Homo sapiens: one gene and its partners. The protein of the gene in region 2 purifies or fractionates together with the protein of the main gene of each other region. This does not show direct contact. Each region holds a gene or a part of one and is shown on either strand. Other genes may lie near its edges.

Region 1 (3,730 bases), on a different chromosome or scaffold from region 2:
GGCATCCCAAAGCACTGGGATTACACGTGTGAGCCACCATGCCGCATCAGAAGTAGGATTTTAAAATCTGGAACCATGCAGCTGGCTCCAGAGGCCATGCTTTTCCCCAAGATGCCAGACAGCCTGGGACTCAAGGTCTGCAGCGTGAGCAATGCAGTCAATGGTGGTGATGTTTCCTGAGATGAGAAACATCTCACGATGCAGCAATTTCTGTGGCTCCAACTTCAAGATGATCCTGAATCTGACCTTTCCTGCATCAGTTGTTCTCCATGAGCCCACCCTGCTCTCCCTGTTTCCACCTGTGTCCCCAGTCTATTCCCTACAGGCAGCCAGGGGAAGCCAGTGGACACCTTCTTGGGTCAGATCCTCTTTTTTTTTATTTTATTTTTTTTATTTCAGACAGAGTCTCGCTCTTGTCGCCCAGGCTGGAGTGCAGTGGCAGGATCTCGGCTCAATGCAACCTCCGCCTCCCGGTTCAAGTGATTCTCCTACCTCAGCCTCCCAAGTAGCTGGGATTACAGGCGCCCACCACCATGCCCGGCTAATTTTTGTATTTTTAGTAGAGACGGGGTTTTGCCATGTTGGCCAGGCTAGTCTCAAACTCCTGACCTTGTGATCCACCCACCTCGGCCTCCCAAAGTGCTGGGATTACAGGCGTGAGCCACCGTGCCCGGCCCAGACCCTCTTTTTCCCACCTGTGGCTCTTAGAACAAAATGGAACGTCCTTGTCATGACTACCCTGCATGAACACTGTTCCCAACCTGTTACTTTGGGCACACTGGCCTCCAACTCTGTGTGTGTGTGTGTGTGTGTGTGTGTGTGTGCACTGTTCCCAACCTGTTACTTTGGGCACACTGGTCTCCAACTCTGTGTGTGTGTGTGTGTGTGTGTGTGTGTGTGCGGGCACGTGCATTTGAGCCCAGGAGTTGGAGGCTGCGGTCAGCTATGATCGCACCACTGCACTCCAGCCTGGGCGACAGAGCAAGACCCTGGCTCAAAAATAAAAAATAAAAAGAAAAGAAAATGGCAGGACAGAGAGGTGAAAAGACAAGTGGAAATAGGATCCAGATCACTGCCTGAGGGCTGTGCAGTGGTACAGAATCTTCTCATTGAGAAGGTGACCTTGAGTAAAGACCCAGAGGAGAGGGAGGGAGCCAAGGACCTTTGGGCTGACAACCATCCCTCCCTCTTCAACAGCCACAGACTGACTCCTTCACTTCCTTCAGCTATAGCTCAAAGGTCACCTCCTAGAGAGGCCCTCCCTGGCCAACCTGGCTCAACGATGGCCCCATCCCCCGCATCCTGACCCCGCCTTACCTCCGGGCTGCACAGCTGCTATCCTATAATTAGGTCCTTATCTGCTTGAGGGTCTGACTCCCTTTCTAGAATGTGAGCTCTGAGAACACAGGAGTTTTTGTCTTTCTGTCCACTGCTGCATCCCCTGGGCCTAGCACAGGGCCTGGCGCACACGAGCTGCTCAATAAATGATCAATACAGACAACAGTCCCTGTCCTCATGGGGAGGCAAACAAATGAATAAAAAAGTATATTTTGGGGCTGGGCGTAGTGGCTCACACCTGCAATCCCAGCACTTTGGAAGGCAGAGGCAGGAGGATGGCTTGAGGCTAAGATTTTGAGAACAGCCTGGGCAACATTGCAAGACCTCTTCTCTACAAACAATGAAAAAATTAGCTGCACATGAGGCTGGGCATGGTCACCTGTAATCCCAGCACTTTCGGAGGCTGAGGTGGGCGGATCGTTTGAGCCCAGGAGTTGCAGGCTGCGGTCAGCTATGATCGCGCCACTGCACTCCAGCCTGGGCGACAGAGCAAGACCCTGGCTCAAAAATAAAAAATAAAAAGAAAAGAAAATGGCAGGACAGAGAGGTGAAAAGACAAGTGGAAATAGGATCCAGATCACAGCCTGAGGCCAAAGTCCCCCTTACTTTTTTTTTTTTTTTTTTTTTTTTTGAGATGTAGTCTCACTCTATCGCCCAGGCTGGCGTGTAGTGGCGCGATCTCGGCTCACTGCAAGCTCCGCCTCCTGGGTTCACGCCATTCTCCTGCCTCAGCCTCCCTAGTAGCTGGGACTACAGGCGCCTGCCACCATGCCCGGCTAATTTTTTACATTTTTAGTAGAGACGGGGTTTCACTGTGTTAGCCAGGATAGTCTCCATTTCCTGACCTCGTGATCCGCCTGCCTCAGCCTCCCAAAGTGCTGGGATTACAGGTGTGAGCCACGGCGCCCGGCAATCCCCCTTACTTTTAACCAGCATGCCAGCTACTCAGATGACAGACATTTAGCAGCTAAGAGCAAGGACTCTATAGCCAGGCAGCATGAGTTCCAAAATCCCAGCTCTGCCACTTACAAGCTGTGATTATTGGGTAAGTTTCTTGCTCTCTGGATCTGTTTCACCTTTAAATGGGGCTTATAGCAGAACCTGTCTTGTGGACTGTGATTAGAATTAATATGTTTAACGTGCTTAGAAAGGGGCGTCACACACCATGAGTGCTACATAATTGTGGCCACCTTTTTCTTTCTCTAATTAGTAGTTCTACTCTATCACTGGGTCACTGCATGACCTGCCGTTTCTTCCTTCTGGCCTTCGGGGTCTTGCTGCTGAAAATAAGATAAGACGGCCACATTCAGCTGGGAGCTGAAAGATGAAGGACCTGGGCCCGGCACAGCCACAAAAAAGCCCCATTTTTCTGTTCTCAGACATGATCTCTATGAGAGCAAGGGGTCAGGAATCGGGGCTGCTTCCCGTTTCCACATCTGCAGCACCCAGGAGGGGGCTCTGGCACTGGACTGTGTCACTGAATGTTTGTCAAATGAATGAACAAATGAACAAGAGGAGGAACAGAGGGAGATGCAGAAAGAAAGCAGGAGGCTGGGTGCGGTGGCTCATGCCTGTGATCCCAGCACTTTGGGAGGCTGAGGCAGGAGGATCGCTTTAGATCAGGGGTTCGAGACCAGCCTGGGCAACATAGCAAGCCCTGCCTCTACAAAAAGTGAAAAAACTTGCTGTGCATGGTGGTGCACACCTGTGGTCCCAGCTACTTGAGGGGCTGAAGTGGGAGGATGAGGGGAGGTGGTAGGGGCTGAGGTGGGAGGGGTTGAGCTCAGGAGGTGGAGGCTGCAGTGAGCTGAGATTGCTCCACTGCATTCCAGCCTGGGTGACAGAGGGAGACCCTGTCTCAAAAATGAAAGAAAGAGAGAGAGAAGGAAGTGAGAGGTGACAGCATGCTGGCAGCCCTTGCTCGCTGGCCTCAGAGCCCACTCTGGCCATGCTTGAGGAGCCCTTCAGCCTGCTGCTGCACTATGGGAGCCCCTCTCTGGGCTGGCCAAGATCGGAGCCGGCTCCCTCTGCTTGCAGGGAGGTGTGGAGGGAGAGGCGCGGGCGGGAACCCAGGCTGCACGCAGTGCTCTCCGGCCAGCGCAAGTTCCGGGTGGGTGTGAGCTCGGCGACCCCGCACTCGGAGTGGTGGGCCGGCGCCACCTGCCCTGAGCAGTGAGGGGCTTAGCACCTGGGCCAGCAGCTGCGGAGGGTACACCGGGTCCCCCAGCAGTGCCGGCCCGCTGGTGCTGCACTCGAATACTTGCCGGGCCTCAGCTGCCTCCCTGTGGGGCAGGGCTTGGGACCTGCAGCCTGCCATGCCCGAGCCTCCCCCCGCCGCCGTGGGCTCCTGCACAGCCCGAGCCTCCCCGAGGAGCGCCACCCCCTGCTCGGC
Region 2 (4,298 bases):
GCCGTGACTACCATGTCTTTTATGCAAACTTCTTTTCACTTAGGCTAACTTCAACAGCCAGCGAATATGTGGAAAAAATTCATTTTAGATACATATGTGGTTCTTTCATGACAAAGGCTTGAGTGCTTTGGACACAAGGTAGTGAGGTGGGTTGGTGAAATTTGGGGTGGCTCTGAACTTGAAATCTTCTACCAGATGGGGTTGTAAATGTCACACTTTTAACAAAGAAGCGTGGACCTAAGTTCTGAAGCATAGTGACCCAGCTTTGGTCTACTCCTCGCCATGATCCTCTCCATCTCACTGAGCATATCTGACTAAAGAGACTGCATAGGCCGGGTGTGGTGGCTCATGCCTGTAATCCCAGCACTTTGGGAAGCTGAGGCAGGTGGACTGCTTGAGACCAGGAGTTCAAGACCAGCCTGGCCAAAATGGTGAAAACCCATCTCTACCAAAAATATAAAAATTAGCCAGGCATCGTGGCACGTGCCTGTAGTCCCAGCTACTCAGGAGGCTGAGGCAGAACAATCACTTGAACCCAGTAGGCAAAGGCTGCAGTGAGCTAAGATCATACCATTACACTCCAGCCTCGGTGACAGAGTGAGACTCTGTCTCAAAAAAAGAAAAAAAGAAGCATAAAACATGTGTCCCATCTCTAACACTAGCCTTGGGAAAATCAGGATCGACATTTCTTACATATAAAATTGGCTGGGTGCGGCGACTCACGCCTGTAATCCCAGCACTTTGGGAAGCCAAGGAGGGAGAATCACTTGAGGTCAGGAGTTCGAGACCAGCCTGGTCATCATGGCGAAACCCCGTCTCTACCAAAAATTCAAAAATTAGCCAGGCGTGGTGGTGCATGCATGCAGCCTCAGCTACTCGGGAGTCTGAGGCAGGAGAATCACTTGAACCCAGGAGGCGGAGGTTGCAGTGAGCTGAGATCGCGCCACTGCACTCCAGCCTGGGCGACAAAGCAAGACTCTGCCTCAAAAAAAAAAAAAAAAAAAGGCAATAATCAGGCTCTTTCCTTTTTAAGGGAAAACATACAATAATAAACTTTTCTTACTGAGTTATGAGGATAAAATAAGATATAAGAAGCAAAGTAACTTTATAAACAGAAATGAGTCTTATTCTGTTATGCTCACTGGCTGAACAGAGCAGCATTAAAATTCACATTCAACAACCCTCGGAGTTTTGCCTGCATTACCATATACTTTAAAGTAAAATTGAGGCTCGGTGCTAGCTCTCAAATGCATCACTTTATGTCCATATTTTCCCAAAGTGTGAAACATGCCAGTGTGGTACCTACAAAATATTAAGTGGCTTATGGATATGCAGCAAATAACCCCATGTAGTAAGGGGTACTCTTTCAAAATCTCTTGCAATCTCTTTCATTAAGGAAGATAACTCCATTTACAGCTGGTATAGCCTTAACACTTTCCCAACACTTGCTAATTTCCCCTTTGTAACAGAAAGACAGTATTTAATACAATTTCATAACTTTTTAATTTGTTTGTTTTTTTTTAATGATTACTCACCCATTTGTGGCAAGTGGCACTGGCTTCCCATTCACCATAAGGATTTTGTTTCAAGGAAATTAATTTAATTTTTAAATGGGACATAGCTATACAAAAAAACACATCTAGTAATCAAAAGTTCAAGCAGTACTGCCATTAGGCAAAAATCCCGAAAGTGGTACACGGTAATTTAACGTTGAGAAAACGACTTCATGAAATTTCTTTTTTTTTTTTTTTTTTGCGCGGGGGAGACAAAGTCTCGCTCTGACGCCCAGGTTGCAGTGCAGTGGTGCAATCTCGCCTCAAAGCAATCTCTGCCTCCCGGGTTCAAGCGATTCTCCTGTCTCAGCCTCCTGAGTAGCTGGGATTACAGGCACCTGCCATCACGCCTGGCAAATTTTTGTATTTTTAGTAGAGGCGGGGTTTCACCATGTTGGCCAGGCTGGTCTCAAACTCCTGACCTCAGGGGATCCTCCAGCCTCGGCCTCCCAAAGTGCTGAGATTATAGGCCGGAGCCACCGCGCCCGGGCTCATGACAATTTTCTAAGGCAGCACAGATGAAACAAGGAAAGCAGGAACCAGGGTCCAAAACCATGTCTCTCTACTCTAAATTCGATGCTCCTTCCACTACACTGATGGCTTTCACAGTTTACAGTGCATGCAAATCACCTAAAGGTCCTGTTCACAGATCACAGATACCGACCAAGTAGGTCGGGGTGGGGCCCGAGAATCTGTATTTCTAGCGAGCGCCCAGAAGTAGCGGAGGCTGCTGGTCGTCGGGCTACCCTTTGCCTGGCAAGGCCCTGGGCAAAGACTACAAAGAGAGAGACTCCCGGAGACGCTGAATTTTCAGTGTCGCCAACTGTCCTCGACTCGGAACGCTGGCCGCACCTGCCGTGACATCACTGCACAGGGGTGCAATTGCGTCACTCCCCAGGCGTCACTGCCGAAACAACCCCTGTCCTCCTGTCACTCTCGCCGCTAACTACAGACCCCGCCCCGCCCGCCAGCGCCCCGGAGGCCGAAGTCACGCAGTCGCGCTCCGTCGCAGGCCTGTGACGTTACGAACCTCTCCCCCGTGACCTCTTCGACCCAAACCTCAAGCGAAAATTCCCTAGCTCGCTAGACCGGCGCAGGACTGTGACTGCGCGCCTCCTTTTACCTGAGAGGGACCGCCGGGCCCCCGGGCGCAGCCGCCAAAGGCGGGGAGCCGCCGCCGCCCCGGCGCAACTCATTGCCGGAACTAAAAAAAGCAACCACTTCGTTGAACGGAACTGGCCAATAGTGCCCTTGGCTCGGACTGATGACGCACAGCAGACGTAAGGAAGGCTCAGCTCGCCCGCGCACCGGTGGGAACGCCCCCTAGCTCTGCGCTAGGGGTTAGATTGGTTAGATACGACAAATAAAAAGATTTTATTGGGTGGGGTCACTGTCAATCACTCGGAAGACCAAGGCCAAGGCGCCTTGGGTTGCCAGGGAGATGAAAATGCTAAATTGCTGTTTAGAAAGATCAGGACAAGGTTATGATTTCTCACCCAAGTTCCTGGGGAAAAGGATCATGAGGGAATTACTTATTAACAAGGCACGGTATTTCCTGCTTTACCTACGTGGAAGGAGATTTTTTTTTTTATTTGTATCCTACATCTACTTTAAAATAGTAAGCCTGGGCAACATAGCGAGACCCCGCCTCTACAAATAATTTTAAAAATTAGCCGGGTCTGGTGGAGCACACCTGTAGTCCCAGCTACTCGGGAGGCTGAGGTGGGGGGATAGCTTGAGCCCGGTAGCTCGAGGCTGCAGTCAGCCGTGATTCTGCCACTGCACTCTAGCCTGGGCCCTGTCTGAAAAATAAATAAATAAATAAAATTATATGTATATCTAAATTACATGCACCACATGGTTAATGGTGTTATATAGTGTTATCTCTATTGGTGGGCTGAAAGCCAACTTTAAACTTCTTCCCGGTCTTTTCTCTATTTTCAGAAACAGAGAACATGTTTTATCCTTGGTATCCACCTTAATGTACTGTGTGCATGTATGCATGTATATTTGTGCAAATTGGAATTTTTTGAGAAGGGAGGGGAAATTTAGCAACATACTTTAAAAAGATCATATAATACAGCAGTCTTACTTTTAGGAATCTACTCAACGAAATAATTTTTAAATGAGTAATGTACATGAGGGCAAAAATCAAAGATGCGTGTCTGCAAGGATATACAACGTTTAATATTGGCAACATCAGGGGGCTGGAACTGGGAGAAGGGAGCTTTCACTTTCTACTTTACACCCTTGGATTATTTATATACTTTATCCAAGTTTACCATAAAATATTTTAAGATGGAATACAATTGTAAAATTATTGAATTCAAGTTTTTAGTTTTTATATCACTCTAGTGTTCAAATTGACACACCAAAATAATTTAAAATTATGATGAACCCAAATACTACTTAGTGAGGATGTTGTAGCACTCTCATGTAAAACTACTGAGTGTCTGAATCTGGCGCTCAAAAGCCTTAAAATGTTCAAAACCTTTGCTGTAATACCACTTCTAGGTCTCTGTTTCCTTTTTGTTTTGTTTTTTGTTTTTGTTCTTTTTAAATGGAGTTTCACTCTGTCGCACAGGCTGGATTGCAGTGGGGAGACCTTGGCTCACTGGAACCTCTGCCTCCCGGGTTCAAGCGATTCTCCTGCCTCAGCCTCCCAAGTAGATGGGATTACAGGTACACACACCACCACGCCCAGCTGAGACTGGGTTTCGCTGTGTTGGCCAGGCTGGTCTCAAA
Region 3 (3,794 bases), on a different chromosome or scaffold from region 2:
CTTCTGTGCCTTGCAGTGAGTAGTCTGATAGGAAAACAGACTTTGGCTGGAATACGCTGGCAGAGGAATGGCCCAAACCGTAGCCTGAAGGCTGTTCACTGCTGTTTCTTTGACTCATGAATCCATGGATTTGACATGGAACAGTGATGTCGGTGATAACTAACTTAGTAAATTTGATTAACTTAGAGAGTTGTAGTCTAGTTCATGGATGTCAGTAGAGAAGCCGTGCTGCTCCGTGGAGGAGGTTGACGCTCATGTCTTCTCCGTTGGTGTCTGCGTATCCCTGGTTCAATTCTGGATGTGGTCTCTCTGTTGGCCCCTGGGAGTGGAGCCTTTGGGAGGTGGCCTCCTGCTGCTCCAGGCCCCTCTGCCTGCAACCCTTTCACCTTAAATGTCCTCTTGATTTGACAGATTAATGACAAGAAAGTGCAGAAAGAAAGGTTAAAATATTTTCTTTGTACCATATAACAAGGCTACCTTTTCCTTGACTGTCTGAAAATTTATTTTAATATTTTCTTAATTTCTTTTACTCACTTTATTTCTTTTTTTAGTTTTTGTTATTTTGAGACAGGGTCTGTCTCTGGCACTCGGGCTGGAGTGCAGTGGTGCCATTACAACTAGCTGTAGCCGTGACCTCCTGGGCTCAAGTGATCCTCCAATCTCAGCCTCCCAAGTAGCTGGGGCTACAGGTGTGCACCACCATGCCCAGCTAATTTTTAAAAATTTTTTGTTGAGATGGGAGCTCACTACATTGCCCAGGCTGGTCTCAGACTCCTGGACCCAAGCAATCCTCCCACCTCAGCCTCCAAAGTGCTGGCATTATAGGCATGAGCCACTCTGCCCAGCCTATTTTTATTTTTTTTAAGCGTTTATTATTTAAAACACTTACACCTGCCCTAACACTTGTTATTAGCTGTGTGAATTTTATAAACTCTGTTACTTCTTATATATTTCAAGTGAGTTCTGGATTTTTCTCTTTTCTCTTGGAAACTTGATTTTCAGAAACCTGTGCCCAGCAGCTCTGGTGGAGATGCCCACGTTCCCCATGGCTCCCAGGTCATTAGGAAGCTGGTCATGGTAAGAACCACAGCCCATCCGGGTTGCCAGCGGGTGGGTGCTTCCCTGCATGGCTGTGTCTGCCACTGATGTTCGAATGTTCCTCCGTCCGCCTGTCTGTGGGGCTGGCGTGTCCCTAGAGTTGCGAGTTCAGTGCATCCTTTGTCACTGCCACCCTGAGCCTTTTCTCTCTCAGACAGTACTGAGTGAAGGCCCTGGTGGGGGTGTGTCCTCCTGTGCCGAGGAGGGCCCTGGTATGGGGTGCGTCTTCCCTGTGCCCAGGAAGAGGGCTACTGCTCTGGGTGGTCTCCTCCCGGGCAACTCACCCTTCTTTGAACGTAGCTCCCGAGCTGAGTCGATGCCAGTGGAGCGGTCTGACAGATCCTTTCCGCGACTCAGCCTGGTGCTGATGCTGTTTGGTTTGGTTCCTTGTGGAGTAGAGTGATTTAACACATTCCTATGATATAATATGATATGAAATATAAATATGTAACTGTGATATAAACGGCGTAGAATGAAATGTTTTTAATTGAACAGTATACGTTAAGGCATCACGTCAAGATTGGAGGACTTCATGTCAGTTTTACAGTGAGAAATTGTGTGGAGTGACGGAACTGCAGTGCCTTGCTCTCGCGCCCCAGCACCTGGCTGCAGAGTGTCACGGAGATGGGACCCCTGAGATGGCTCCAGTCCCAGTGCCGTGGGCAGTGCGTGGGAGCACAGCCGCCTCTGACCCCTGAGTGGGTCCAGTCCCAGTGCCGTGGGCGGTGCATGGCAGCACAGCCGCCTCTGACCATACCGTGTCCCTCAGGAACCCACCTTCAAGCCCTGGCAGATGAAGACTCACTTCCTGATGCCCTTCCCGGTGAATTACGTGGGTGAATGCATCCGAACTGTCCCCTACACGGACCCAGATCATGCCAGGTAGGAGGGTGTAGGTCGGGACCTCTCAGGCCTGAGCCTTACGGAAGAGCTTGTCAAGGCTGTTCGAGTTCACAGGGCGTGTTTTAGCACAGGAAAAGTCTGTGCTGACTCTGAGTGTTGGACCTGGGGCTGTGTGAGTCTACGAGTGCTCCTCTTTAACCAGCAGTCTTTGTGAACAGAGACCCAGTTTTAGAGCCAGTCATTTTTGTAAACAATTTCTATTATTGAGGAGTCCTATGAACAATACAGATACCTATGACCTTAAACACAGACTGCTTTCAACATGCCCCATGTACTCACCTCATCTCTAGGTAAAAATCGAATGAATTTAGGCTGAGATTTCTGATAAACATGGTAGGTTAAGCCTTCATGAGGACAGATGCGTGAATGACAGCAAAGGCAGATCAAGACACGAAGCTACAAGGGAAAGAGTGGGAGGTGACCCGGAGAGCCATGGGGGCTGCAGGAGAACCTCGTGAGCCAGACTCTGGGTGGGTGGGGGGTGCCTGACCTGGGGCCACAGAGGGACAGGGCAGTGGGGAGAAACCAGGTGGTCCTGCAGAGCCCTGCAGATGGCAGGGCTGGAGGCCGCCTCACAGTCCCTCTAAGGAGTTTGTCTCCCCTGTCTCCCCACCAAGTCAGAAGCTCAGGGAAGGAGGCCCTGGGTTGAGCAGCCGAAGCCACAGCCAAGAGTCAGGGTCAGGCCTGTTCCCAAAGTGGCGTGGGGCGAGGGAGTTTGCAGCCTACAGACTGGCCCTCCAGCCCCTTCTTCCGAACTCTGGCTGCCCCTTGGCTGTGTTCATCCCATCTGGGGAAACTGGCCAGACCAGGACAGACTCACAGACGTGCACCTTTGGGGACCCGTCAGTTGGGTGTGTATGACACAGATATGTGCAAACATGTTATATCCCGGAAATTCACTTCCTGTGTCCTTGTCCCAGGCAGCTACCCCCATGAGGGACTAAACCAAGGAGTGAGCCTGGTAGAGAGGGGGAAGGCAGGCTTAGGCCTGGGCAGCCTGTCCTGATTGGAGAAGGAGCCGGGCCTCCGAGGTGCACGTGTGTCACAGAGGGTCACAGATGGGGAGGTGTGTAGGAGGCAGGCGGGAAGAAACGTGGGGCTGCAGTGGGGGCCCAGAAAGAGCTGGCTGTAGAAGTATGTGGTCAGCTGTTTTGTTCATTTATTTCCATATTTGTAGAAGATGAACAGATCTGTCTGCTATGCCGGCAGAAGAGTGGTGTCTGTTTCCACTATCCAACAGGAAAATGTAGACAGAAAACACTAAAAATGTGGAGGTTCCCCCTGGGCAGTGGGATTCCAGATCTTTTTTTCCTTGTGTTTTGTATTTTATAATCTTTCAAAAGTGAGCATGTTTTTAATATACAAGTAATAGAAATTTCTCAGGAAGGATAATGTGTGGACGGATGGAACGCCATCCCTGCCGGTGCTGGTGGAGACTCCGTCCCCCAGGGTCTGACTCCAGCCTCGCTAGTCCCGGCTGACGGCGCCCCAGCCACCCGAGTGGCGCTGGGTTTCTCCTGGAGGACCCACACGAGATGGTCGTGACTTCTCCCACCACAGCCCCTGGGAACACGCCCACTCCTTCCTTGATTTCCCACCTGGCCTATTTGACTCCCTTCATCCACTTTAGGAAAAGGCCTGTCTGTGGAAGCGGCGACCTGGGGCTGATCTCACCACGGGCGTCTTCAAGGAGCCTGTGTCTGTGCTGCAGACCCTCCCATCATTGTCTGCCCCGCCTTCTGTCGGAGGTGGATGTGTTCTAGAATCAGCTTGAATGTGATGTTACCGTTCAC
Region 4 (3,794 bases), on a different chromosome or scaffold from region 2:
GCAGCTGCTCTTCCTGCTGCGCCCAAACAGCAAGGGCTCCCCAGGGCCTCCTTCCCTCCTGCTGCATGCCTGGACAGCACCTCTGCCTGTGGCCGTCCCTGCCAGCCTGTCCTCGGGCAGGGGCAAGCAGCCCTCACATATGATCCCCGGGCCCCTCCTGCAGCTGTGGGCTCCGGCCCATAGCCTGCCACCCTGCCTCTCAGCAGTACCAGCTGCCCAGGTGACTGAGCCGCCCTGCCGCTCAGGCCATGTGACCACAGGTCACGGCCTTCCCAGCAGGAAGCATGTGACGGAGACAGCCTATCAGAGCACTCCATCACCCCAGCTGGTGATTGGCTCATGAGGATCACATGACCCCCAAGCTGGCCAATCAGAATCTCCCCTGATTTGTGATTGATGAATTCTAGGAGAAAAAGTGTTTCTCTTTCCCTGGAATCAAGAATTAGAATCCTTGAGCTATAGTGGCTATCTTTCCTCTAATTCAGGGCAGCCAAACTGAGAATGAAACAAATCACACAGAGAAAAGGAGAATCAACGAGTGAAGGAGAGAGAAATAGAATCCTAACGATGTCATAATTGAAGCTCCTGGATTCAGCAGGGTGTGACCCAGTCCCTGCCTTTAGCCTTCCTTGTCTATTGAACGGGCCCCAAAATGTCCCCTTTTTGCCAAACGCTTTTTGAGCTGGGTTCTGTCCGTTGTGAGCAAGATTCCCTCCTAATACAATACACTGTTTGTCCTAATCCTGCCTCTGAAACCTTGAAGTGAGAGCTCCTCTCCCTCCAGAATCCTGAATTTGGGGAACAGATTCCTGGCCTCCAGGAGCGGTGGGCTGGGTCTAGGGAGGATGCTTGAGGGTGCGTCGGGGCGGGCAGGGCGCGGCCGGCTCCAGGTCCTCACCATCCCTTTGATGCCTTCAGGGAAGAGGAAGCGGTTGTACAGCGTGCTCACGGTGTCGTCCGGGAGCACCTCACACTCCTTCTGCAGCAGCAGGTCTCCGGTGTCCAGACCATCATCCGCCCAGAAGATGGAAAACCCCCCTTTCTTATCTCCGTGAATGAGGGTCCTAGGAAGCAGAAGAGTGAAACCTGGAGTCCACGATGAAGGGCCACGGAGGATGTCCTGGGTACAGGCCCGTGGACCTGCCACCCTCCAGGAGGCCCTCTCTTCCCAGGGGTAGGACTGACACCGGCTCCGGCGGGAAACGGAAGAAGGAAAACAGCATGTATTGATAACAACCATGGGCCAGGAATTGTGCTAAAAGCTCTATATGCCTTATGTAACTGAGTCCTCACAGCAGGGATAACAGGTATACTCGGTTTACAGATAGGGAAACTAAGGCCCAGAAAAGTGAAGCGACACCCACAAAGATCAGAGAGCCTGAATCTCAACAGACCAGTCCGACTACAAATCCACTCTCTTTTCTCAACTCAAATGTCTTCCCTCTTTGACCACCCATCTGCCTTGTCACCCCATTTGTTGTCTTGGGAATTCTGTCCCCTCAGAGTACCTTGTGGAGGCCATCCTTTGCTCCATCTTTATCTCTTTCTACGAAGTGTGCTGCCCAGAGCAGCGGCAGTGGAAGTTAGAGTAGGACCCCCAGCCCACCGCCTGGGGTGGCACCCTGGCCCCTGCGCCTCCTGGTGCCCTCTCTGTCCCTGCGCCTTCTGGTGCCCTCTCTGTCTCAGCTGGGGGATGGGAACACTGACAGTGCCAGCTTCTCCAATAACTGTGGGAATGCAGAGTGCTTAGCAACACCTGCTCCCAGTGCTCTAGAGCCTTCACTCATTGATAACGTTGCACAGCCTGTTCTGTGGCTGACATCTGGCAGCCACAGGACAGGCACCTGCACGATGCCCACTCTGCAGCCCTAGAAATGCTTTGGGCTAATGGAAAGTGACAAGTCAGGCTGATGGAGGGACATGTATGGGGATGGCCCCCTGTGTTTTTGCCCCATCTCACCAGTTGATGGCCGAGGCCCCTCGGTGCCTAGGGAGCAGTGACGGGTGATAGATGATGGAGCCATGCCGGGGGGCACTGATTATCTCCATGGGGATGAATTGGCTGCAGAAGGGCAGGACGTTGAGCTCGGCCCCCAAAGCCTGGTATTTTGCCACCACATCAGGCAAAGCCTGTCCTTTTGCACGCCACCGGGAGTACTTGAATACCGGCACTCCATCCTTCTCAGCTTCCAGACCTGTGGGACGGTGGATAAGAAACTGGCCCCTCTCCATAACCCACCCACACGCAGCCACCTCTGCCTTCCCAGCAGAGCAGCTCATAGGACTTCTCTCCATTCCTGCCCCCTCACCCACACCCCAGCCAGGCTCCACTGGGCAACACAGACGGATGCACCAGCCAAGCATGAGGCTCTGGGGACTGCCCTGCCTGCATCCTGACTTTTGCTGAACCCCAGGACCTCTGAGTGCCTCCCTCTTCCAGAACCCAGATGGCTGACCTCTGCCCTCATTCCTCTCCTGAGGCCTTGCCATCCCCGTCACTGAGTTACTGTCTTCCGGCCCCCTCTACTGCTCACTCTGTGATGGGGACTGCCCCCCTGCAGATGGCATTTCTGCTTTGTCAGCTGTTCCCTGATGGAGGAAGAAGGGGAAGAAGGGCAACAGGGCATCCCCACTCCTTTCTGTCCAGTGGGTTCCTGTCCTGTGAGCCTCCCCCAGCCCAGCTTCTTCATCCCAGTCACAGTCGTTCCTTCTCAGAGCAATGGCTAAATCAGTTTTTCCATCATCTGCAGAACTAGCCTCAATATGCACACATGCGTGCACACACACACACACACACACACACCCCAGAGGACCAGATACAGCCTGCAGGGCCCCTCCTCCTGCCCCGTCACCAGCACACCCTCCTCACAGGTCTGGATTACAGGCCCAAGCTCCCAAGTTTTTATAGTTAAAGCGTCCTCCTTTATCTTAGCCTTACAGTGGCAGCTGCTTCCTGCAGTCGCTGTCCCCAATAACTTTGGGCTCTCTGCCTTCCACTCTTCAATACCCAAGGAACACTTCTTTGTATTCAGTTCTCTGTTAGAGCCTCTGGTGTGATGTTTGGGCCCTGACTGGACTGGCTCTCCTCTCCGGTCTCCTCCTCTGTCACTCTGTCCTGGTGTCTGGTAGTTTTGAGAGAGGGTGGGATGTGATGTCAGCAGATTGGACTGCACTTGCAAAAGCTGTCCCACAGTGACCAATGAAATACTGCTTCAGGACATCTGAGATCAAGGCCAAGTAGGAGTCCCAGCCAGGCCTGGTCTGGGTCCAGGGTCAGCAGCTGGGGTCAGTGGTCACTTAGTGGCTGGGTGTAGGACCCAGGCTGTGGTGGGGTCAGGGTATGTCATGGGTCACTTGTGGTCAGGTCCAAGACTGAAGCCTGGCTGGCATTGGGTGTTGAGTGTTGGAGTTGATTCTAGGGCCAGGCTGCAGCTTCCCCACTGAGGGAGACTGGCTTTCCTTAACAAACTACACCTCTGTGCCTGGCCAGGCCTACAAGCCCCCTTTCCTAATCCTGGCCCTCTATCCTTAAGCCCTGCCCCACAGTCTGTCTCCATCAGGCCTGAGAAGGACCAGTCAGTGTTCCTAGAGGGTCTGTTCATCCAAGCTGAGGCCCCTGCATCCTGTCTGCTGAGGTTCCCAGCTCAAAGGCAGTGACCCAGACCCATGATTCTCAAAACGTGCTTTTCCTAGTACAAGAGATGCCAGTATCTCCCAGGAACTTGTCCCAGGTTAACAATTTCACCTAATTCTGACTTTTCCACCTCATTCTGAATCCGAAACTCTCAGGGTGC
Region 5 (3,794 bases), on a different chromosome or scaffold from region 2:
GCGCCAGGGGCACCTCCTCCATGTACACAGCCTCATCCTGCCCCACGGCCTCCTGCACAGTGTTCTCCACTGCCCGGAGCTGCTCTGGGGTCAATGGGGTCTGGAGGGGTGGGGAGGAAATGGAAAGACCAACATGCAGTCAGCCCCACACCTCTAACTGATGCATTGAAACACGGTCAATGTTCACTGAGCTATCCCCAGGTTCTAGAATAGTGGCTAGCACATAATAGGTGCTCAATAAACACTACCTGAGCAGACAATTATTTTCCTTAGAAAGCTATCTGGGAGTTGGGCCTATTGGAAGCTCCAGGCCTTTCACCAGGCACCAAAAGTTAAAGAAACAGAAAAAGGAGGCTGTATCCACATGGAGCTTACAAGGGGTAGCCCAATGGAAGAGAGAACTACAGGATGGGGGGATGCAGGGGCAGGGAATAAGCAGGTGGGATGGGGATTAGCCAGCAAGTACTTCCTGGAGAAAGGATTTAAGCCAGATGTGTAAGAAGCGCAGGGAGACAGGGTGGCAGCAGAGGGAGAGGGCAGCCCAGTTTAGGCAAGAATGGCTTGGATGACAGTAGAAACAAGGAAGGGGAGCGGCTGGAGGTGAAGGGAAGGCCCCTGCTGGAGGGCCTTCAGGATCCCACATCAGAGCTGGGCGAGGCCCCAGACACTCTGTAGCCTGACTCCTCACTGCTGCACAAGGAGCCCAAGGGGAAAGGACTTGCCCAGGGTCCCATAGTGATTGGGTGGCCGTGCTGGGCCTAGAGCCCAGGACTCTAAGGGCAACCCGCTCACAGCAGGCTGTCTCTCTTTTATGCCTGTCACCTCACATGAAGCCTGTCTTTCTATGCCGGGCTCACCTGGGTGGTCACATCCAAGCGCAGCTGCTCAGGATTGAGATGGGAGCCCTGCTGCTCTGTGCCAGGGCCCAGGGTCTGCCTCAGTGCCCAGTTCAGCAGGTGGGTGGCCGTATGCTTCGCCATGCAGCCTAGACGCCAGGCCTGAAATACTTTTGTCACCCAGCGTCCTGGGTGAGGGCAGGGGGTTGGGAGAGTGAAGGGGCTGCAGGGTATTGGGAACAGTTAGGGAGGATCCTTACCTCATCCACATGCAGCTGCACCTGGTCCCCTAACCGCAGGCACTCAGGGGCTACTGCCTCATGCAGGATGAAACCTCCACAGACCTGGGCCCGGGCTACTGGGAACAGCACGTCCTGAGGGAGGGTAGTGGTCAAGGTGCCTGTAGCCTTTCCCTCCCCTTGGCTCCCACTCAGGCTTGGGTCTGCCGCCCACAGAAATCAGCCTGGGTTGTGATGGAGACTCACCTCTTGCCCTGCCCGCACCAGGTAGCCACGGTCTGAAGCCTGGCCCCCCTGTTCTGCGTAGAAGTTGGTCCTGTCCAAGAGGAGGCCACAGCGCTGGCCTTTCCCCACGGAGGCCACTGCTGTCCCGTCCTCTGTATACAGTTGCAACACCTGGGCCTCACAGGTGCCGAACTCTGCCAGGGCACAGAATGGTTATTAGTGGTGGGCAGGGGCTGGGGACGTGAAGGTGGGTCTGTGCCTGGAGGCCAACAAGCACCCCCGCTGGCAGGGGCACTTCCAGCTGGGGGCCACAGAGACCCCTGGTGGCCATCCTGGGGAATACATAGGGGCTAGCAGCAACCATCTTGGACATTCTTCTTAGTCATGGTCAGGCAAGCTTGTGGCGGCAGGCCTTGGTCCAGGCTCTCACCATAACTTCCGCTGGGTCGCAGGGAGTAGTTGTACTTGGGGCTGTCGTCAGTTGGGGGCACTCCTTGGCGCTGCAGCTCCCCAAGCGCATGGACATCAAGCCACAATCCCTGCTTCTGAACTGGCTCAGCCTGCCGTGCCCGGTGCTGCAGGGTGGGCATGGGCATGGAAGAAGTGCATGGAGAATGAAAGAATGAAAGTGGGACTTCAGCCTCGCAGGGCCCTGTCCCTGCCACACAGCTGTGGACTCTGCAGCCCTTCTGGAATAAGAACTCAGGGCTTGGCTGGCTGCTAGAGCCCCTGAGCTGGTTGAACCATCCATCATGTCGGCTCCTCGGGATTAGGCCTTCCTGCCCACTGCTGCCCCTGGAGGGCCCCTCTCCAGGAAGCTGTGCTGGCTTCTGCTCCTGTGTTTAGCCCATTGGCTAGTTTTGCTTTCTACTGGTTGTGGCCTGAGGTTTTAGAAACCTCCCAGGTGAGGGGACAGATCCTATCTCAGCCTCTTGATTCCTCTCAATATTCACAGCTCCTCCCCCAGGAGCTCAGGGCTGGGGAAGAGGTGTCCTAACAGAACCCAGCATGGGGTGCCACAGCTTGTACCTGGGCCTCCTCTTGGGCCAACCGCTCCAGTCCAGCGGAGTCTAGCTGGACCCCTTTCTCCTCCAGCATCAGCTCTACCATGTCCAAGGGGAGTCCCAGGTCTCCACACAGTGACAAGGACCAGGCCACTTCAGCTTTGAGAAAGAAAGACAAAGAATGTTGAGGAGGGGAGGGATTAGACAAAGAAGGGGAGAAAAATAAGGTCCAGGGCCCTTCTAACCACGCAGAAGCCACCAGATGCCAAACACAAATACCCGCTCCATACTGGGTAGCCTCAGGAGAGGGGTCACATTCAGGCTTCATGCCTCAAGGCCAGAGCTGGGGGTAGTCCAGGGTACTCCCTGGGCACACATCATTTCAAGGGAGGAGGGAAGCTCAGTCTATGCACGAAGCCAACCTAGGAAAGCAGGAGGCAGGGCTAGCTGGGCACTGTGGACATGGGGAGAGGCAGGGTGGTATTCCTGCTGCAGAGGGGTCTGGGTATGGAAGGAGAGTCCAGGGAGAAAGGAACATTGGGAAGAGGTCAGGGGTGGATATGAGGCATGGGGCTGGCCCAGAGCTCCCTCCTCTGCCCACCTTGGTGAGTCTCAGCGAGCCCCTTGTGCATGGGCTAGGTATCCTGCTTACCAGGGAACATATCTGAAGGCCCCAGGGTCCTCAGAGTCCGATCAATGATCCGCCTACCCCGCTCCAGGGAGGCCAGGAAGGCTGCCTCGTCCTCTGACACCAGGTTGGCGATCTGAACCAGGCAGAGAAGAAGTGGAGCTGGGTCTCCTTGGAAGGAGGGTCTCTCTCCACAACTCTCCCATCAACCCCTTTCTCTCCCACTGGAATCCAGTACCTGGGCTGAGTTCCTTTGCAGTTCTGGATAAGCATCTCCCTGGGGGAGGTGGAGAGGGCTGAGGAGGTGTGAAAGGCAACCAACCCACCCCCACCTCCCCACCCTGGGCCTCCCTGAGGACACCTGCCCTGGAGGCTCAGACACATTGAGGGGCTGGGAGAGGGACTCAAATGGGGAACTGGTTTCCCTGTAGGGTGGCAGAAGGGGGTCCTGAGGTCAAGGGCTGAGCAGTTTGGAAAAGGAGCCTCCTCAAGTTCTCCTGCTTCTTGTAAGCAAGGACAGCTTTCTTAGCTTGCTGATAGGATGCTGGGCTCGATATTTAGGGTGGGGACCTCTGGGCACCCAGGCTGGGGGCACTGTCTAGGCTCAGTGGTAGGCTCCCCAAAGTGCCCAGGGAGGCCCAGAGTGAAAAAGAAGCTCTGTCCTTACCAGTGTCTCCACCACTACAGGTACCAGGCTGCCTAGGAAGCCAGGTGGTGCCTTTAAGATCTCCATGGAGAAACGCACAGCTCGACGCAGGATCCGACGAAGAACCAGCCTAAAGGGGTTCAGAGCCCAGACATGAATCCCCAGCGGCTCATGGTCAGCAATATGGGGAGTGGGAAGGACGAGGTCCAGTGTGTG
Region 6 (3,794 bases), on a different chromosome or scaffold from region 2:
AGTAAGATACAAAAACATCAAGCAAACAAAGATTAATATCTTCAGAAATGTTGTATGTTTGGCAAAAGCTCCTATAACAAATAGTAGGAGGCCGGGCACAGTGGCTCCTATCTGTAATACCAGCAGTTTGGGAGTCCGAGATGGGTGGATCACCTGATGTCAGGAGTTCAAGCCCAGCCTGACCAACATGGCAAAGCCCCATCTCCAGTAAAAATACAAAAATCAGCTGGGTGTGGTGGCACATGCCTGTAATCTCAGCTACTTGGGAGGCTGAGACAAGAGAATTGCTTGAACCCAGGAGGCGGACGAGATCGCACCACTGCACTCTAGTCTGGGCAACAGAGTGAGACTCCGTCTCAAAAAAAAAAAAAAATTTTTAGATGTTCCCACTTTATACCAAAAACTATGTGGCTACACATACCAATAAAGCCCTTTTTTGCTAGCTCCATGGTGAACCTCCTTGTGATCTTTTCCAATTCATTATCCTGTAAAATAAGAAAACAAAAACAAAAGAAAAAATTGATATAAAAATCGCTTGAGATTATAGCTAGCATCTTATTTTCTATTTATAGTACATTTTCATATGTCTTCTCATGTAATCCTTAGAACAACTCATAAAGTAGGCATTGCCATTTTAAAGGTGACAAAATAAGGGATCAAAAAAGTAGGTTATAAAAACAAGATAGTAGAACTAGGGCTCAAATTCCCATTCTATTAATTCCCCACTGAAAAATACACTAAATCTTAATTAAGATTAATTTAAATATAATTATATTCCATTTAAATGGTGAATTTTAAAGAGAATAAAAATCATGCATTTATGTTTGTATATAGATAATTTAGTATTATGTAAAGCATTGTGACAATCAGTTTGAATTAACTTGGAACTGACTGGATAAAAAGTAAGGTTTTTATAGTCTTAGTTAAGATATGTGTCACTAGAATCAGATCCTGACATAAAAACTTCAGATCACAGTAATACTTTTTTCTTTTTGAGACAGAGTCTTGCTCTGTTACCCAGGCTGGAATGCAGTGGTGAAATCTCAGCCAACCTCTGCCTCCTGGGTTCAAGCAATTCTCATGCCTGAGCCTCCCGAGTAGCTGGGATTACAGGTGTGCACCACTATGCCTGGCTAATCAGATCACAGTATTTCTTAAATATGGGTATAAGTGTCTAAGTGAAGACATTATATAAATATGGGTATAAGTATATAAGTGAAGATATTAATTACGTTTTAACTAAGTAAGAAAATAATAAAACAAAAAGCAAAAAAGTAAAACAAAAGACTCATAAAAACAAAACCAAATGAAACAGAAAATGATAAAGGATATAGATATTAAGTAGGTGATCTTTATATGGCAAAACACGCTATGAGTTAATTCTTTACATTTTTCTATTCCATTTGAAAAGCAATGGGGACTACTGATCTCACTGATAGTGGGGGATACAGAGAAGCCCAGTAATTTCAAGTCCTTCATAAATGCACTGTGTGCACAAATGTCACTTTGAGGCCGGGTGCGGTGGCTCATGCCTGCAATCCTAGCACTCTGGGAGGCCAAGGCAGGTGGATCACCTGAGGTCAGGAGTTCAAGAACAGCCTGGCCAACATGGTGAAATCCCCTCTCTACTAAAAATACAAAAATTAGTCGGGCATGGTGGCGTGCACCTGTAATCCCAGTTACTGGATCAAGGAGAACTGCTTGAACCCGGGAGGCGGAGGTTGCAGTGAGCCAAGATTGCGCCATTGTACTCCGGCCTGAACAACAGAGGAAGACTCTGTCTCAGAAAAACAAAAACAACAACAACAATAAAAAACAAATATCACTTTCATACTTACAGTATAGTTCTTGGGATTGATCTTAACACCAGCTTTAGCACCCCCAAACGGCACATCTGAAAGAGAAGGCTGATGGTTGCTATTCCATATAAATGTTAAAAAAGTAAAATGACAGAAAGCACCACACAATATTAGAGAAACGTGATGCTTTAAGCTTGAATTTCTGAAAATTCAAGAAATAAACCTACCATCATTTTCTAAACTGTACTTTAAACAACATTTTGTTGAACAGAAATTGTTCAATAAAATTGGCTAGCCAAGTTCTAATATATATTTAATCAGTGCTCTTTACCACTTCTAAAAGATAATAGCTTATTTACTCTCCTTCTACTATAATTTGGTCTTATTTACAGAATGTGTTGAGGAATTGAAAACAAAGATCTAGACTTAAAATCCAATTATCTCCTATTTTAAAAAATCCCCCATGTAAAAAAAAAAGGCTATATCTTAATTTAGACTAATTGAAAAATGATGCAGGTCTTAAAGATTACAACTTGAAAAAAAATCAGTTCTGATAAGGTATATTTCTACAGCATCTTAACAGTAACATGTGTGTAAACATATTTCCCCAGAGTTCTCATTAGGCAGCAAGAAAGGCGATCACTTACCAACCACTGCACACTTGTATGTCATCAGAGAAGCCAAAGCTTTTACTTCATCTACACTCACATCAGTGCTGTAACGGATACCTGGTGGTGTTTTTAAAAAAATGTGTTGGGGTGGGTGAGAAAGAAGGGGTTATATTTAGAACAAACTTAAGTAAGCTTCAAAAAAGAAAGCTACAAATTGAAAATATCCACTTTTTACATTTTACATCCAAGCTATGTCCAAAAACACTTGAAGCAGCTTGTACATCAGAACACCATGAAAAATGAATATAAAACGTTAAAAAAACCTGCTAATAACAGTAACTATGATTTCACAAGACAAAAATCACCCTGCAATGAATTTCTGTACACTTTCCAGAAGGCTTTTTTATGTTCCTTTTACCTTTGGTTTGGGTGACCTGGTTGCAGGGAGTTCAAGAATTCAGGTTGCTTTTTTTTGGGGGGGTAGGGGTGGGAAACAGGGTCTTGCTCTGTTGCTCAGGCTGAGTGTAGTGGCACAGACATGGCTTACTGTAGCCTCAACCTCCTAGGCTCAGGTAATCCTCCCACCTCAGCCTCCTGAGTAGCTGGGACCACAAGTGCACACCACCATGCCCAGCTAATTTTTGAATTTTTTGTAGAGACAGGATCTCACCATGTTGCTCAGGCTGGTCTCAAACTCCTGGGCTCAAGTGATCCTCCCACCTTGGCTTCCCAAAGTGCTGGGATTACAGGCATGAGCCACTATGCCTGGCAAGAATTCTGCTTTCTGATAATTCACAAACATGGGCAATGAATAATCACCAGGTTCAAAATACCGTATGTCTAAACAGAGGTTTTGGCTTCAAATGGGTATATTAAAAGAGATCCTTACCTGTTATTCTCCTCACCCACTGCCAACCTCTTTCAATCTGAAAATGAGAAAGCCATTTTCCCTTTCTGAGGTTGAGTGATTCCCTTCACCACTTCTGCAAAGAGGGCAGGTAGCCAAGCAGACAGGTAGGTACTAGTGCCCCTGTATCTAGTAGCCATTACGTGTTGGTACAGGGTATACTGGAAGTGGGGATGCCCACAGCTTTGGCTTTGGGGGTCTTGGTCAATTACTCTTCAAAGTTTTGGAGTGCTAATCCACCTTTCTTTCTCTATAATCCATTGCTTCTCAATCCCAAGGAGGAAAGTCTGAGTGGGGTTGATGTTTGACTGCACAGTGCTTGGGGCACTGGGTGTTTGTGTGTGAAGGATACCCACAAGAAGCTGCAGCATTTTTTCTACCCTCCCACTCCCAACAGATTCAGCCCCTCTCGAGGGGCTGGGTACGATTTCCACTGGGAGTCACAAGTAAGTAATGGGAGCCCCAGGGAGAGCTCTT
Region 7 (3,794 bases), on a different chromosome or scaffold from region 2:
GGGCTACGTTCCATGAGAAACACAAAGATGGATCCCAAAGGGCACTGGTCCACAAAGGGCTGACAGGTTGCAGGGTCAGACAGCAGAGATGTCCGTTTTCAGGACACAAGACGGAAAACACCGACAGCCAAAAAAGGGGGCCGGGGAGGGTGGGGGAACGGCATTCATTCCCTGCTGGGGAGGGAGGGGAGGCAGCATTTGAGCTGAGTGGAGGACGGGAGGAAGGGCAACCCAGGCAGAAGGTCCAATCTGGGCAAAGGCCCAGATAGAGAAAGAGAGAGACCAGCGGGCAGAGGCCGGCTGGGAGGGTGCACGCAGAGAAGGGTGGGGGGAAATGCGTGAACAGCAGTCTAGGACACCTGAACTCAATGCATGAGAGGCCACCGAAGAGACGCTCATTACCAGTGCTGTGCTTTACAAAAATAACACTAGTTCACAATGGCAAGACCTTCCAGAACGATGCCAAACACACCCAGTGAGGGGGCAAATTCATAGGTACAGGTACAAGGGTCAAAGTTGGTATAAATTCCAAATTAAAATAAATATGGATAATATTTAAACTGAGCCTTAGGCTGGTTGAACGTGATGTTCCAGAACCCAAATGTTCTGTCATTGGGTCTGGGGCAGCTGCAGCCATTCTCACTCATGCCATGCATCAACTGACTCATCTGTAAAGCAGTCCCAAAGAGAGGCCAAAAAACCCCTCTTCAGATCTACAAAAACATGTATCTTTTAGCAGTGTCTGTGTTTAGATATACTCATCAATATGTGACAATAACAGTAAACATAGGTAGCATTATACGAGGACATACAAAATCACTATTGGGAGGCCTGTCTTCAATTTTGAATAAAATTCCTATTTGCCACAATGCAGATACTCCCAGATTCGATTTTTCTCAGGTCTTGAGTCCTGTTTCGTGATTGCAGTACTGCATTATTCTCTCCTGCAACTGACGGCAAAAACCACCATCCCTGCTTGGCAGGCCCCTTTGGAGGCTGAAGGCCAGTGGCAAGGGGCACTGTTGCCTCTACTGACCTGATTAACCATCTGGTGCTGCTGGACAGTTCTCTTCTCCTTAAATTCTTCTGATTCAATTTTAATTTCATACATCGCCCCACAACCTCCTAAAATAAACATGATTCAAAAGCATTTCAATTATTAAGTCATGGCAGCCATGGTCCCATATATCCTTGAAGTACTGTACAATCCAAAGGTCTGAATATTATCATTCAGCACAAAGGAAAGTTGCTAAGACCATTAGGAAAAGATCATGGCTTCCAATCTGACCACATGCTCCTCCTGACAGGCTGCCACAATCCAAAATGTGCTCTTCCTTTTGCGAGGCAGCTGCACCACCCAGGGTTACCACTTGTGGGCAGGAAAGATAAGGCACAAAGCATGGACAACCTAGGGAGTGTAGAGTGTTTCCTTTCACTAGGCCAATAAACGCCACGGAAGAGGATGAGAAGGACGGAATTTCAGCGTTCCAGCTTCCAAAGGACCAACAATCAGTGTTTTTGAAGTGCAAAAATACACTACAATTTGGTTTGAAAACTGTGTAATACTGTCCAAAGAAAGGAAAGAACCAGGGGAGCATGAGAGCCAGGGACACAGCAAACATGCTATGCATGGAGCTGCTCGGGGCTGTCTCTGGCACTGCTGGGTCCACAGCACAGCATCCAGGATTTCATCCTGGCTTTTGGGGGGAGAACTTTTTGGTGAAGCCCTCGAGGCAGAGCTTGGTGGGCCATCCACCCCCTGCCTGAGCTTTCCTCCACCTGGCTGGAGAGCTGGTGCTGATGACTGATGATAAACACACAGCTCTAGCATGAAATAACATGGGCAAGAATATGTCCCCTGCATGATTTACAGAGCCAGGCCATTGTGTGAGAGGTGCAACGTACTCAACAGGCTTTGCTCTGCTTCTTTTTTTTTTTGAGATGGAGTCTCGCTCTGTCGCCCAGGCTGGAGTGCAGTGGCACGATCTGGGCTCACTGCAAGCTCCGCCTCCCAGGTTCACACCATTCTCCTGCCTCAGCCTCCTGAGTAGCTGGGACTATAGGCACACACCATCATGCCCAGCTAATTTTTTTTTTGTATTTTTAGTAGAGACGGGGTTTCACCGTGTTAGCCAGGATGGTCTCGATCTCCTGACCTCGTGATCCACCCGCCTCGGCCTCCCAAAGTGCTGGGATTACAGGCGTGAGCCACCGCGCCTGGCCTGTTCTGTTTTTCTTATAATGTGCTCTAGGAGTCCAAGTTTTGGTTAAACCCAGGTTCTCAGCCTCAACTCCCCTTCTGCACTCTGTCCAGGACTGCGCAGAGCCACAGCTGAGTCAAGCTCTAACTCTGCCCTGGGCCTGGGGCAAGTTCAGGACCTGGTAACATCAAGGCCTCAGCATTGCCCCAAGACTCCTGCAGAGCCCTCACCTGATGTACCATTCCAGCAGATTTTTTTTTTCTTTTTGAGACAGAGTTTCGCTCTTGTCGCCCAGGCTGGAGTGCAGTGGTGCAATCTCAGCTCACTGCAACCTCTGCCTCCCAGGTTCAAGCGATTCTCCTGCCTCAGCCTCCTGAGTAGCTGGGATTACAGGTGCCTGCTACCATGCCTGGCTAATTTTTTTTTTTTTTTTGTATTTCTGGTTGAGATGGGGTTTCACCATGTTGGCCAGGCTGGTCTCGAACTCCTGACCTCAGGTGATCCACCTGCCTCAGCCTCCCAAAGTGCTGGGATTACAGACATGAGCCACCGCGCCTGGCCCCAGCAGATTTTTTTTTTTTTTTTTTGAGACACAGTCTCGCTCTGTCACCCAGGCTGGAGTGCAGTGGCATGATCTTGGCTCACTGCAGCCTCCGCCTCCCGGGTTCAAGCAAGTCTCCTGCCTCAGACTCTTGAGTAGCTGGGACTACAGGCGTGTGCCACCACGCCCAGTTAATTTTTGTATTTTTAGTAGAGACGGGGGGGTTTCACCATGTTGGCCAGGCTGGTCTTGAACTCCTGACCTCGTGATCCACCTGCCTCAGCCTCTCAAAGTGCTGGGATTACAGGCATGAGCCACTGCTCCAAAACCCCAGCAGATCTTTAGATTGATTTATTTCCTGTGGTTTCCAGAATAAAATCTACTTTCTAAACTTTCTCCTCAATCCTTGGAAATGTTATGTTCTCAGTAAAGTCAGTGAGCCCTCATGGCAATGCTGAGTGGCAAAGGCTGCCTCTGGGTATGGAGAGATTCAGACTGATGCCTATCCAGCGGCCCACGCCACGGGCCGTTCTGTGTGTACGTGTGTGTGTGTGTGTGGATAAAGGGCCTATCTTCCCCATCCTGTGGATGCAGAAGTTGCTTCTCCAGCCTGCTCCTAACACACTGCCAGCCTGAACTTCTAGGTGCCAGTGGCCACCTGAGAAGGACAGCGCTTGGCTGGGGCTGGTAACTGGGCTTAGGACAGAGTCTCCCCTGAGTCCCGGTTCTGGTTCCAGTTCCACTGTCTCTTCCCTATGAGGAGCTAGGCAATTCCTTTGGCCTCTCTGGGCTCATTTCCTCTTAGGGAAAGTAAAGCAGCTGAAGAAAATCTTTCTGGGGTCCACTCCAGCTCTGATATCCTAGGGTGTCAGAAGAATGGGGGAAAATTAGAGCAAAACCTATTCAAAGTCAAATGACAGACTGTGGACCTCAGCTCTAGGGTGACTGAGAGGGACCTTGTCTGAGCTGAGCCAGGCTGGCAACCTTGAGTCCTCCCAGCTGCGCCTTGTCCTCAGTTTCCCTCTGATATTTCTGAATCCTGACTGCCATCC

What was found.
Region 1: the proteins of COQ7 (region 2) and ECH1 purify together in Homo sapiens (affinity purification with mass spectrometry; one large-scale study listed by BioGRID and IntAct). This does not show direct contact.
Region 3: the proteins of COQ7 (region 2) and PITRM1 purify together in Homo sapiens (affinity purification with mass spectrometry, with the first as the bait; one large-scale study listed by BioGRID). This does not show direct contact.
Region 4: the proteins of COQ7 (region 2) and ALDH1L1 purify together in Homo sapiens (co-immunoprecipitation; one large-scale study listed by IntAct). This does not show direct contact.
Region 5: the proteins of COQ7 (region 2) and AARS2 purify together in Homo sapiens (affinity purification with mass spectrometry; one large-scale study listed by BioGRID and IntAct). This does not show direct contact.
Region 6: the proteins of COQ7 (region 2) and GLUD1 purify together in Homo sapiens (co-immunoprecipitation; one large-scale study listed by IntAct). This does not show direct contact.
Region 7: the proteins of COQ7 (region 2) and BOLA3 purify together in Homo sapiens (affinity purification with mass spectrometry; one large-scale study listed by BioGRID and IntAct). This does not show direct contact.

What each region holds. Positions count from the first base shown.
Region 1 is NC_000019.10:38,818,110-38,821,839, forward strand, and holds part of ECH1 (delta(3,5)-Delta(2,4)-dienoyl-CoA isomerase, mitochondrial precursor), read right to left. Parts: intron 1-3,730. UniProt on the Homo sapiens protein: Isomerization of 3-trans,5-cis-dienoyl-CoA to 2-trans,4-trans-dienoyl-CoA.
Region 2 is NC_000016.10:19,066,116-19,070,413, reverse strand, and holds the start of COQ7 (NADPH-dependent 3-demethoxyubiquinone 3-hydroxylase, mitochondrial), read right to left. Parts: upstream 2,801-4,298; 5' UTR 2,750-2,800; coding exon 2,677-2,749; exon of another isoform or gene 2,584-2,676; intron 2,508-2,583; exon of another isoform or gene 2,406-2,507; intron 2,398-2,405; exon of another isoform or gene 2,184-2,397; intron 1,768-2,183; exon of another isoform or gene 1,567-1,767; coding exon of another isoform or gene 1,536-1,566; intron 1-1,535. UniProt on the Homo sapiens protein: Catalyzes the hydroxylation of the 5-methoxy-2-methyl-3-(all-trans-polyprenyl)benzoquinone at the C6 position and participates in the biosynthesis of ubiquinone.
Region 3 is NC_000010.11:3,141,575-3,145,368, reverse strand, and holds part of PITRM1 (presequence protease, mitochondrial isoform 2 precursor), read left to right. Parts: exon of another isoform or gene 1-398; intron 399-1,002; coding exon 1,003-1,077; intron 1,078-1,382; exon of another isoform or gene 1,383-1,513; intron 1,514-1,593; exon of another isoform or gene 1,594-1,867; coding exon 1,868-1,980; intron 1,981-2,280; exon of another isoform or gene 2,281-2,397; intron 2,398-3,599; exon of another isoform or gene 3,600-3,768; intron 3,769-3,794. UniProt on the Homo sapiens protein: Metalloendopeptidase of the mitochondrial matrix that functions in peptide cleavage and degradation rather than in protein processing. Has an ATP-independent activity. Specifically cleaves peptides in the range of 5 to 65 residues.
Region 4 is NC_000003.12:126,156,445-126,160,238, forward strand, and holds part of ALDH1L1 (cytosolic 10-formyltetrahydrofolate dehydrogenase), read right to left. Parts: intron 3,732-3,794; exon of another isoform or gene 3,639-3,731; intron 2,196-3,638; coding exon 1,961-2,195; intron 1,065-1,960; coding exon 899-1,064; intron 1-898. UniProt on the Homo sapiens protein: Cytosolic 10-formyltetrahydrofolate dehydrogenase that catalyzes the NADP(+)-dependent conversion of 10-formyltetrahydrofolate to tetrahydrofolate and carbon dioxide.
Region 5 is NC_000006.12:44,303,324-44,307,117, forward strand, and holds part of AARS2 (alanine--tRNA ligase, mitochondrial), read right to left. Parts: intron 3,753-3,794; exon of another isoform or gene 3,709-3,752; coding exon 3,600-3,708; intron 3,210-3,599; coding exon 3,171-3,209; intron 3,069-3,170; coding exon 2,957-3,068; intron 2,464-2,956; coding exon 2,330-2,463; intron 1,876-2,329; coding exon 1,731-1,875; intron 1,495-1,730; coding exon 1,322-1,494; intron 1,211-1,321; coding exon 1,097-1,210; intron 999-1,096; coding exon 858-998; intron 101-857; coding exon 1-100. UniProt on the Homo sapiens protein: Catalyzes the attachment of alanine to tRNA(Ala) in a two-step reaction: alanine is first activated by ATP to form Ala-AMP and then transferred to the acceptor end of tRNA(Ala). Also edits incorrectly charged tRNA(Ala) via its editing domain.
Region 6 is NC_000010.11:87,074,130-87,077,923, forward strand, and holds part of GLUD1 (glutamate dehydrogenase 1, mitochondrial isoform a precursor), read right to left. Parts: intron 2,528-3,794; coding exon 2,447-2,527; intron 1,895-2,446; coding exon 1,839-1,894; intron 486-1,838; coding exon 422-485; intron 1-421. UniProt on the Homo sapiens protein: Mitochondrial glutamate dehydrogenase that catalyzes the conversion of L-glutamate into alpha-ketoglutarate. Plays a key role in glutamine anaplerosis by producing alpha-ketoglutarate, an important intermediate in the tricarboxylic acid cycle.
Region 7 is NC_000002.12:74,141,236-74,145,029, forward strand, and holds part of BOLA3 (bolA-like protein 3), read right to left. Parts: intron 1,126-3,794; coding exon 1,037-1,125; intron 1-1,036. UniProt on the Homo sapiens protein: Acts as a mitochondrial iron-sulfur (Fe-S) cluster assembly factor that facilitates (Fe-S) cluster insertion into a subset of mitochondrial proteins. Probably acts together with NFU1.